Linked DNA regions of Homo sapiens. The protein of the gene in region 1 interacts with the protein of each later gene in a biochemical or structural test. Each region holds a gene or a part of one and is shown in the gene's direction. Other genes may lie near its edges.

Region 1 (3,751 bases):
CGTTACTTAACTATTGACTGAACGTAAATTTAGATAAAATTAAAATGCAGCTTTTTTCCTTATAGGCATTTGTTTTGTTTCAAGTCATCATAAAGTAGGTATTGCATTGCTATCAGTGGATACAGATGCTTAGCTCTTAAAAGAATTTTTTTTGGCCAGACGCAGTGGCTCACGCCTGTAATCCCAGCACTTTGGGAGGTTGAGGGTGGATCACGAGGTCAGGAGATCGAGACCATCTTGGTTAACATGGTGAAAACCCATCTCTACTAAAAATACAAAAAATTAGCTAGGCGTTGTGGTGGGCACCTGTAGTCCCAGCTACTCGGGAGGCTGAGGCAGGAGAATGGCGTGAACCCGGGAGGCGGAGCTTGCAGTGAGCCGAGATTGTGCCACTGCACTCCAGCCTGGGCGACAGAGCGAGACTCTGTCTCAAAAAAAACAAATTAAAAAAAAAAAAAAAGAATTCTTTTTAATGTAAACTGTTGAATATTTGAAATAGCCCACTTCACCTTAATGGGTCTTGTGTATCTTCATTTGTCTTCAAAGAAAAACCATTTGCTACCAAAGTAAATCAGTATTTCGAATGTGCTTCTCTTGTTTTTTGTTTATTAGCTAGTTGCTGTAAGCATTTCCACCAGAACTTGAGCCAAATCATAAGGAAGCTGTTTCTTTTAAAATACAAACCACCACCAAAAAATTAAATGTACATATTAAGCATTTGACTATTTTTATTTTTTTAAAAAGTATAAACACCAAAAAAAAAAAAATTAACATTGTATGAAGATGGAAAACAAGAAGATACACTTTCTGTAACTTTGTCTGAGGATTTAAATTACTAACTTGTGAATCCAATTTAAATTGAACTTAACTACTGGCTTCCCCCACACCCCGCCCCGACCCAGACGGAGTCTTGCTCTGTCGCCCAGGCTGGAGTGCATTGGAGCAGTCTCGGCTCACTGCAGCCTATGCCTCCCAGGTTCAAGTGATTCTCCTGCCTCAGCCTCCTGAGTAGCTGGGATTACAGGTATGCACCACCATGCCCAGCTAATTTTTGTGTTCTTAGTAGAGATGGGGTTTCACCACGTTGGCCAGGCTGGTCTCAAACTCTTGACCTCGTGATCCGCCTGCCTTGGCCTCCCAAAGTGCTGGGATTACGGGTGTGAGCCACCGTGCCAGCCCCAGCTTTCTTACTAGTAAAATTACATGGTTGATTTTAAATGTATACATGTTGACCAATGGCCTCTCAAAAAGCACATTTTAGATACTGGAGTAGAAGGAAAGAAAATGCATCTTCAAACATTTTTTTGGAATCTCACCACATATACTTTGTGAGATTTGTATATTGTAGGGTGTTAGTTTTTGTATTTTTGTATTGTGTATGAGCTTTTTTTTTTTTTTTTTTTTTTTGAGACGGAGTTTCACTCTGTCTCCCAGGCTGGAGTGCAGTGGTGTGATCTCAGCTCACTGCATCCTCTACCTCCTGGGTTCAAGAAATTCTCTGCCTCATCCTCCCAAGTAACTGGGATTACAGGCACCCACGACCACACCCGGCTAATTTTTTGTGTTTTTAGTGGAGACAGGGTTTCACCCTCTTGGCCAGGCTGATCTTGAACTCCTGACCTTGTGATCCACCCGCCTCGGCCTCCCAAAGTGCTGGACTTAACAGGCGTGAGCCACCCCGCCCGGCATCTTTTTTAATGTGACAGTTAAACACATCTTTAAAAGCATAGTCACAGACAAAAGAAGCATACAGTATAAACATTTCCTTGAAAACTCCTACAATATTATATTTGGAGGCAGCTTCAGACTGTTTTATTGGTGGTAACTGCTCGCTGAGCTCTTTTAGTTGGTAATAACTCCAGAGAAGCATCCTGTGTATATTCCTAACACTTGTTCACTAGCATTTAAGTTTAGAATGAGCCCCAAGTAAAACAATGGAAATGTATATAGAACTCTTAGTTCTTACATGATTTAATTATATCAAAATACATGAATTTAACTTACTTTAATGTAGGCAAACTATCAATTTTTGTCCATTTTCCTGTTTGTTAACATACCTCTCCTAGATATTCTTTTCTTGACCCAAATGAAATATTAACCTAAGGTCAAGCTGGGAGAGAGAAACAACTGAGATGAATGTCTTTACTAAAATACCGATAAATTTGTCAAACTCAAAAAAAAATTGACGTGATAAAATTGGGCATCCTTTGTGCTGGCTGCTGCACGAGGCCTCAGTTTTAGAGATTCCTTTCTTAAATGAACGTGGCTTCTTGAGAGATTTCCTGTAAGTATCTACTCTTCAGGGACTGTAGGTTAATGTGCTTTTTCTCTGTCCATAAGTGTGTGCTCCCTGACCTTTGCCTAAGTAATTCTTTCTCGTCTTCTGGCTGGAAGCGTCAAGTCAAGCACTGTCTTAGGAATGCCTTTCCTGACCATCTAGACTGTCATGCCCCCTAATTCACACCCTGTTGTGGCTTCCTGTACTGTTTGCTTTTTAATTTGATTTTTGTCTCTCCCTCCACTAGATTCTAAACTCTGTGGGGGCAGGAGCTGACTGTTTTTTGGACTTAACGTATCTGTTTTTGCTCACCACTGTTCCACACCTAGAACAGTGTCTGTCTGCTGCACATAGCAGGGGCTCAATCTCTATCTGTACAATGAGGGAATAAAGAAAAATCAGTGTTGTTGGTGCTGTCATCACTGAGTAGAAAGTGTTAAGTTATAACTTACTCTATGGAAAAATCCTTCAGGTCCAGCTATTCTTTTGTTCCTTTGTGTTCTATTATAGTCGTAGACACTTAGAGCTTGAGCTAGGAGTCTGGTCACATTTGAGATTTATATGTTAAGGTTTTGACAGCAGTCTCCCTTCCTGGAATGTCAGTTCTGTAAGGGCAGAGATCTTTGTTTTGTTCACCGCTGTACTCCCAGTACCTGGCACAGTGCTGGAACACAGGAGGTACTCCATCCCTGTTTCTTGAATGAATGAATAAATGAATGAAAATATTACCAATTTAAATTACTTGCTTAGAGTAATGATATTGAGGATATCCTGCCAGGAGTCAAAAAAGCAACTAGAAAACTATTATTAAAAGAAGAAAGGCCTGGCACAGTGGCTCATGCCTGTAGTCCCAGCTACTGGGGAGCCTGAGGTGGGCAGATCTCTTGAGCCTGGGAGGTCAAGGCTGTAATGAGCCATGATTGCGCCACTGGGCTCCAGCGTGGGTGACAGAGAGCGAGACCCTGTCTCAGAAAAAAGAAGGAAAAATAAAGTATTGCTGGTAGATGAAGAGTGAGGCTTATGTGAGGTGTTTCCTGTAGGGCGCCAGCCTCCCAGTGATGGACCTGACTGAACTCCCCAAGTGCACGGTGTGTCTGGAGCGCATGGACGAGTCTGTGAATGGCATCCTCACAACGTTATGTAACCACAGCTTCCACAGCCAGTGTCTACAGCGCTGGGACGATACCACGTGAGTGCAGGGGCCGAACCCCTCTGTGTACAAGCCCATTGCAACCCTTCCAGAATTAAAAAGAGCCACCAGCAGAAATGAACCATTCCAAGTATTTGACTTTATTCAAGAGGTCCTTTTTCTCCTTCCCTTTCCTAAGTTCAGGGAATCGGCATTCTGAGACCAAGTCCTTTTTTAGTATGCTGATTCTGAACCCTTGTGGAATTCCCCAAAGCAGCATGAGTTGTTCTTTCCTTCCAAGAGCCAGAGAGTGAAAAAAAAAAGCAAAGCTTAGTTTGAGGCTC
Region 2 (3,751 bases), on another chromosome or scaffold:
AACCTGCACACATCAGGACTCTTTCTTGTCACCTTTGTATTCCTGGCTCCTAGTACAGTCCCAGGAACATTATAGTTGGGCACTAAATATTTAATGTGCATGAATGAATGTGAGCAAAGGGTGATACCATGCCAAGTGCTGTGATAAAGCCCAGATGGGGGCCTCTGCATCCACCTGGGGGACAGGAGGAAGAGTCTCTGGAAGAAGGTCGTCAGGGCTGGGTTTTGAGCCAGAACTATCCCAGCAGAGACCAGGAGCATGGGGCTCTTAGCAGTTCAAGGAGGGTGATGTGAGGCAGCGAGGCCAAGCTCTAATCAGACCGTGGGCAACTTGCTTAACAAGCTGGGCCCTGGTTTTCTCCGTGACGAAAGAAAAGGCTCCACTAGGTGGACACTGGCATTCAGAACATCATTCCAGATTCCCCAAAAACCATATAGTCCCACCTTCTCATTTCACAGGCAGGAAACTGAGTCACAGATGGGGCTGTTCCCTGCCCAGCCCCTTCGAGGAAAGCATGCGGGCTTTCCTTTCCTGAATGAGTCTGTGTCAAAGCTTCCTGTTCACAGTGTTTACTTTCTACACGCTTGCCCCCTAATTCTCACTTTCTCTTTTCTTTCCATTGATCTTGTCACTTTTTTATTTTCGGGGGGTGGCGGATGTGCTGTTCTGTCATCTCCCACTTTCCCATCACCTGATTCCTCCACCTGTCCACACGTGCCTGACTCCATCACATGCCGGGGCCGGACTGCGCTCTTCCCACGCCTGGTGGAATGGTCGCTGGGCACTCCCAGTCGCTGGAGGAGCCGCTACTATGGAAAAGGACGCTACGGCCACCCTGACTTTAAGAGCTCCTGTCCGATTCTGGAGGAATAGTGTGTTCCTGTTACTTCCTTCGCTGGCTGCCTGTCTCTGGTTTTCCTGACACAAGCCCTGCTTCCTTTCTGTCGCCGCTTCCCAGCTTCTCCCATCTTTGTGTCATTTATTCTCGCAAACCAAAGTGAGGTTTCTGCAGCTGAAATGGCTTCCAGCAAGGGTCACACAGGCTTGCATTTTTCGCTGGGTGAGAGAAGAGCCACAGCATGTGGCGGGGCCTTTGTCCACACCATGAGTGAATGGGTGGCTTGTCCCTGGGTCGGAGAAAATTCTGGTCATTGATTTGAGCCCCCAGGATCCCAGTCCCCCTGGCCAGAGCTCAAGAGAAGAGAATCCAGTTAAGCAGAAATACTCTTGGAAGTAGATTTTACTCGTCAAGGGCTAAGGAGCTGTGGGCATGTTCCATCCTCTTTATAAACGTGCTGCAACTGTGCCCTGCGGGAGCTTAGAGAGGGTTCTTTGTGCCCAGGATCCCTTCTGAGCATGCAGTGCAGCCAAGCCTGGGGGATGGAGTCCAGGATGGCCCTTTCTCTCTGGAAGAGAAAGGGAGTCCCCTGCCCAGCTGCTCTGGCCAGACCTCTAGCTCCCGACAGGCTCTGCATTGGGGCTATGATTCTGATGCTGTTCTTTGCTTTCTTCTCTTTCCCTCTGTAGGTTGTAGGCCTGGCTGCCTTGCATGCACCAGGGGCTTTCTTCCTCCTAATCAACAACTCAGCACCGTGACTTCTGCTAAAATGCAAAATGAGATGCGGGCACTAACCCAGGGGATGCCACCTCTGCTGCTCCAGTCGTCTCTCTCGAGGCTACTTCTTTTGCTTTGTTTTAAAAACTGGCCCTCTGCCCTCTCCACGTGGCCTGCATATGCCCAAGTAACTGCTCTCAGAGGATCCCACTAACTGAGCTCCCTCCAAGGCAGTCTGGGCAGCTTCTAACTACCTTCCTGGACATGACTGATTGCTCCCGTGTTCTTCTGAGGGCTGGTCTTGTTTTTGTTTGGGTGGCTCTGTCTCACTGCTAACACCTTAGTGAGATGCCTTCCACCCTCCTGAGCACACCAGCCTCCCACTGGGTGTGTGCCTAGTGCGGGGCGGGCGGAGGTTGGGAGGGTGTTGGCTTGGCTTTTAACCTGTGGGGATTTTGTCCAACAAGGAGTGGAATGATTTCAGAGCTGCCCTGAGGCTGGCACCCTGGTCACAGGAACCCTCTGCGCTGGCTCCTGTCTCAGTCCCCTCTGTAGAGTTAGATCAGAAGACACAGAAAGTTCTGTGGCCATGAAAGATACCAGCTTGGAAGGGTTGTGTCTTCAGTGGCACCCTCAGAAAAATTGTCTTAAAGCAAAGAGGTACCTGGCTCCAGACAATTTTTCTGATGAAAACAAAGTCTCTGCCCCGTCCCCACCCTGCCACCCTGGCAAAGTTACTTCCTTTACAGCTGCCCAGTGTACCATAGACCAGACCCCAGGTCAGCATTTGTCAAGAGCATGGCTGCTGAGTCCCCTGTGGCAGTCAATGCACTGTTTACCAAATGCAGGTTTCTGTTCTCCCTCCCCAGCAAGACCTGCTGAACCCAGATCTCTGGAATGGGGCCCTAGGAATTTGCATTTCAACCTGCTTCCCAGGTGGCCCTGATGCACCCCAGTATTAGAGTTTATTGCTAAAAGGAACATGCCCTGTCACTCCTGGTATCCTGGGAGTCATGTTTCTCTTCTCTCTCAGTTCTACTTGGAGCAAGAGCTTTCCTGGGCTGCAAATGAGAAAACAATTCCTAGGAACCCACAGCAGTACTGAGCATGCTGGGAGCTTGGGACTTGGAGATGAATGAGCCACCGTTGCTGCTCCAAGTAGGACTACTTGGAGTGTAGCTGAGGCCTTGGACGCAGTATGACCAGGGGCAGCTCTGCCAGGGCTGTTGGCCAATCAGTCATTTTCATTTCTTGTTGGAGGCCAGGTCCTCTGCTGAACTCATTTCCTAGCTAGTGTTACCCTAATTCTGATGAAGATCAATGGGGCTATAATTCTTGTTTTTGTTCCTCTTTGCAGCATTAACAGCAGCAAAGTTGTACCCCGGTTTGAAAGGTTTGGCTTGGGCGTCCTGGAGTCCAGTAATCCAAAGATGTAGCCAGCCATATGGTTTTTCGCTGCTGATCTCTTTCTTTTTAAAATGTGTTTCTGAAACATCCCAACAACCACCACGACAAAAAAACACTGCCTGCCCAGCGCTGCAAACCAGGAGCACACGTCCTAGATTCAGACTGTTGGCCATAAACCCCACTCGGGAGATGGAGCTGCACCTGCTATTTCTTAAAATGACACCACCAACAACCAAACCTGTCATGACAGACAGCAAATGTTTACACGTATATTTCTCCTGAGTGAACCTGATGTTTTACAATAGGTAATAATAAAAACAGTCTGTGCAGATGCACTGGCACTGACGGCCAGGATGGCGGAAATGGCCATCCCCTCTGAGGACCTTGTAGGCGGTGAGGGACCCATGCTGGGCCAGAAGGAAGACAAACATGGTAATTGCAGCTGTTCTTGGGGTAGGGCGGGGAGCCCAGAAGGTCTGATCTGGCCTCTGCTTTTTGGCCCAAGACTCCATCAGGGAAATCTATCTAGGGCTCTCCCCTTGTCCTTTCAAAGGGATACTGCCCCTTCCTCGTCTTGCAGAGGAAACCCTGGCTAGGAACTGAGCTAGTTTATGGAGTCTGGAATTCCTGGAGAGCTTGGGTTCACCTTCTCACCCCTGTAATCCAGGCTGCTCCTGCTGGAAAAGTAGAAACAGAATCCAAAAAAGGTCTGGACTCACCCGGTGGTTCCCAGCCAGGGTTTCTGCTGCAAGGTGAGGAAACATCCATGGCTTGTACAGATGTGAGTCT

Evidence for each region. The genes of interacting proteins can lie anywhere in the genome.
Region 2: the proteins of BRAP (region 1) and KSR1 form a complex in vitro, tested with the Homo sapiens proteins (one study listed by BioGRID).

Annotation. Positions count from the first base shown.
Region 1 is NC_000012.12:111,665,355-111,669,105, reverse strand, and holds part of BRAP (BRCA1-associated protein), read left to right. Parts: exon of another isoform or gene 1-148; intron 149-466; exon of another isoform or gene 467-871; intron 872-1,178; exon of another isoform or gene 1,179-1,386; intron 1,387-1,690; exon of another isoform or gene 1,691-2,175; intron 2,176-3,318; coding exon 3,319-3,467; intron 3,468-3,751. UniProt on the Homo sapiens protein: Negatively regulates MAP kinase activation by limiting the formation of Raf/MEK complexes probably by inactivation of the KSR1 scaffold protein.
Region 2 is NC_000017.11:27,620,402-27,624,152, forward strand, and holds part of KSR1 (kinase suppressor of Ras 1), read left to right. Parts: intron 1-791; coding exon 792-872; intron 873-1,527; coding exon of another isoform or gene 1,528-1,534; exon of another isoform or gene 1,535-2,912; coding exon 2,913-2,991; 3' UTR 2,992-3,751.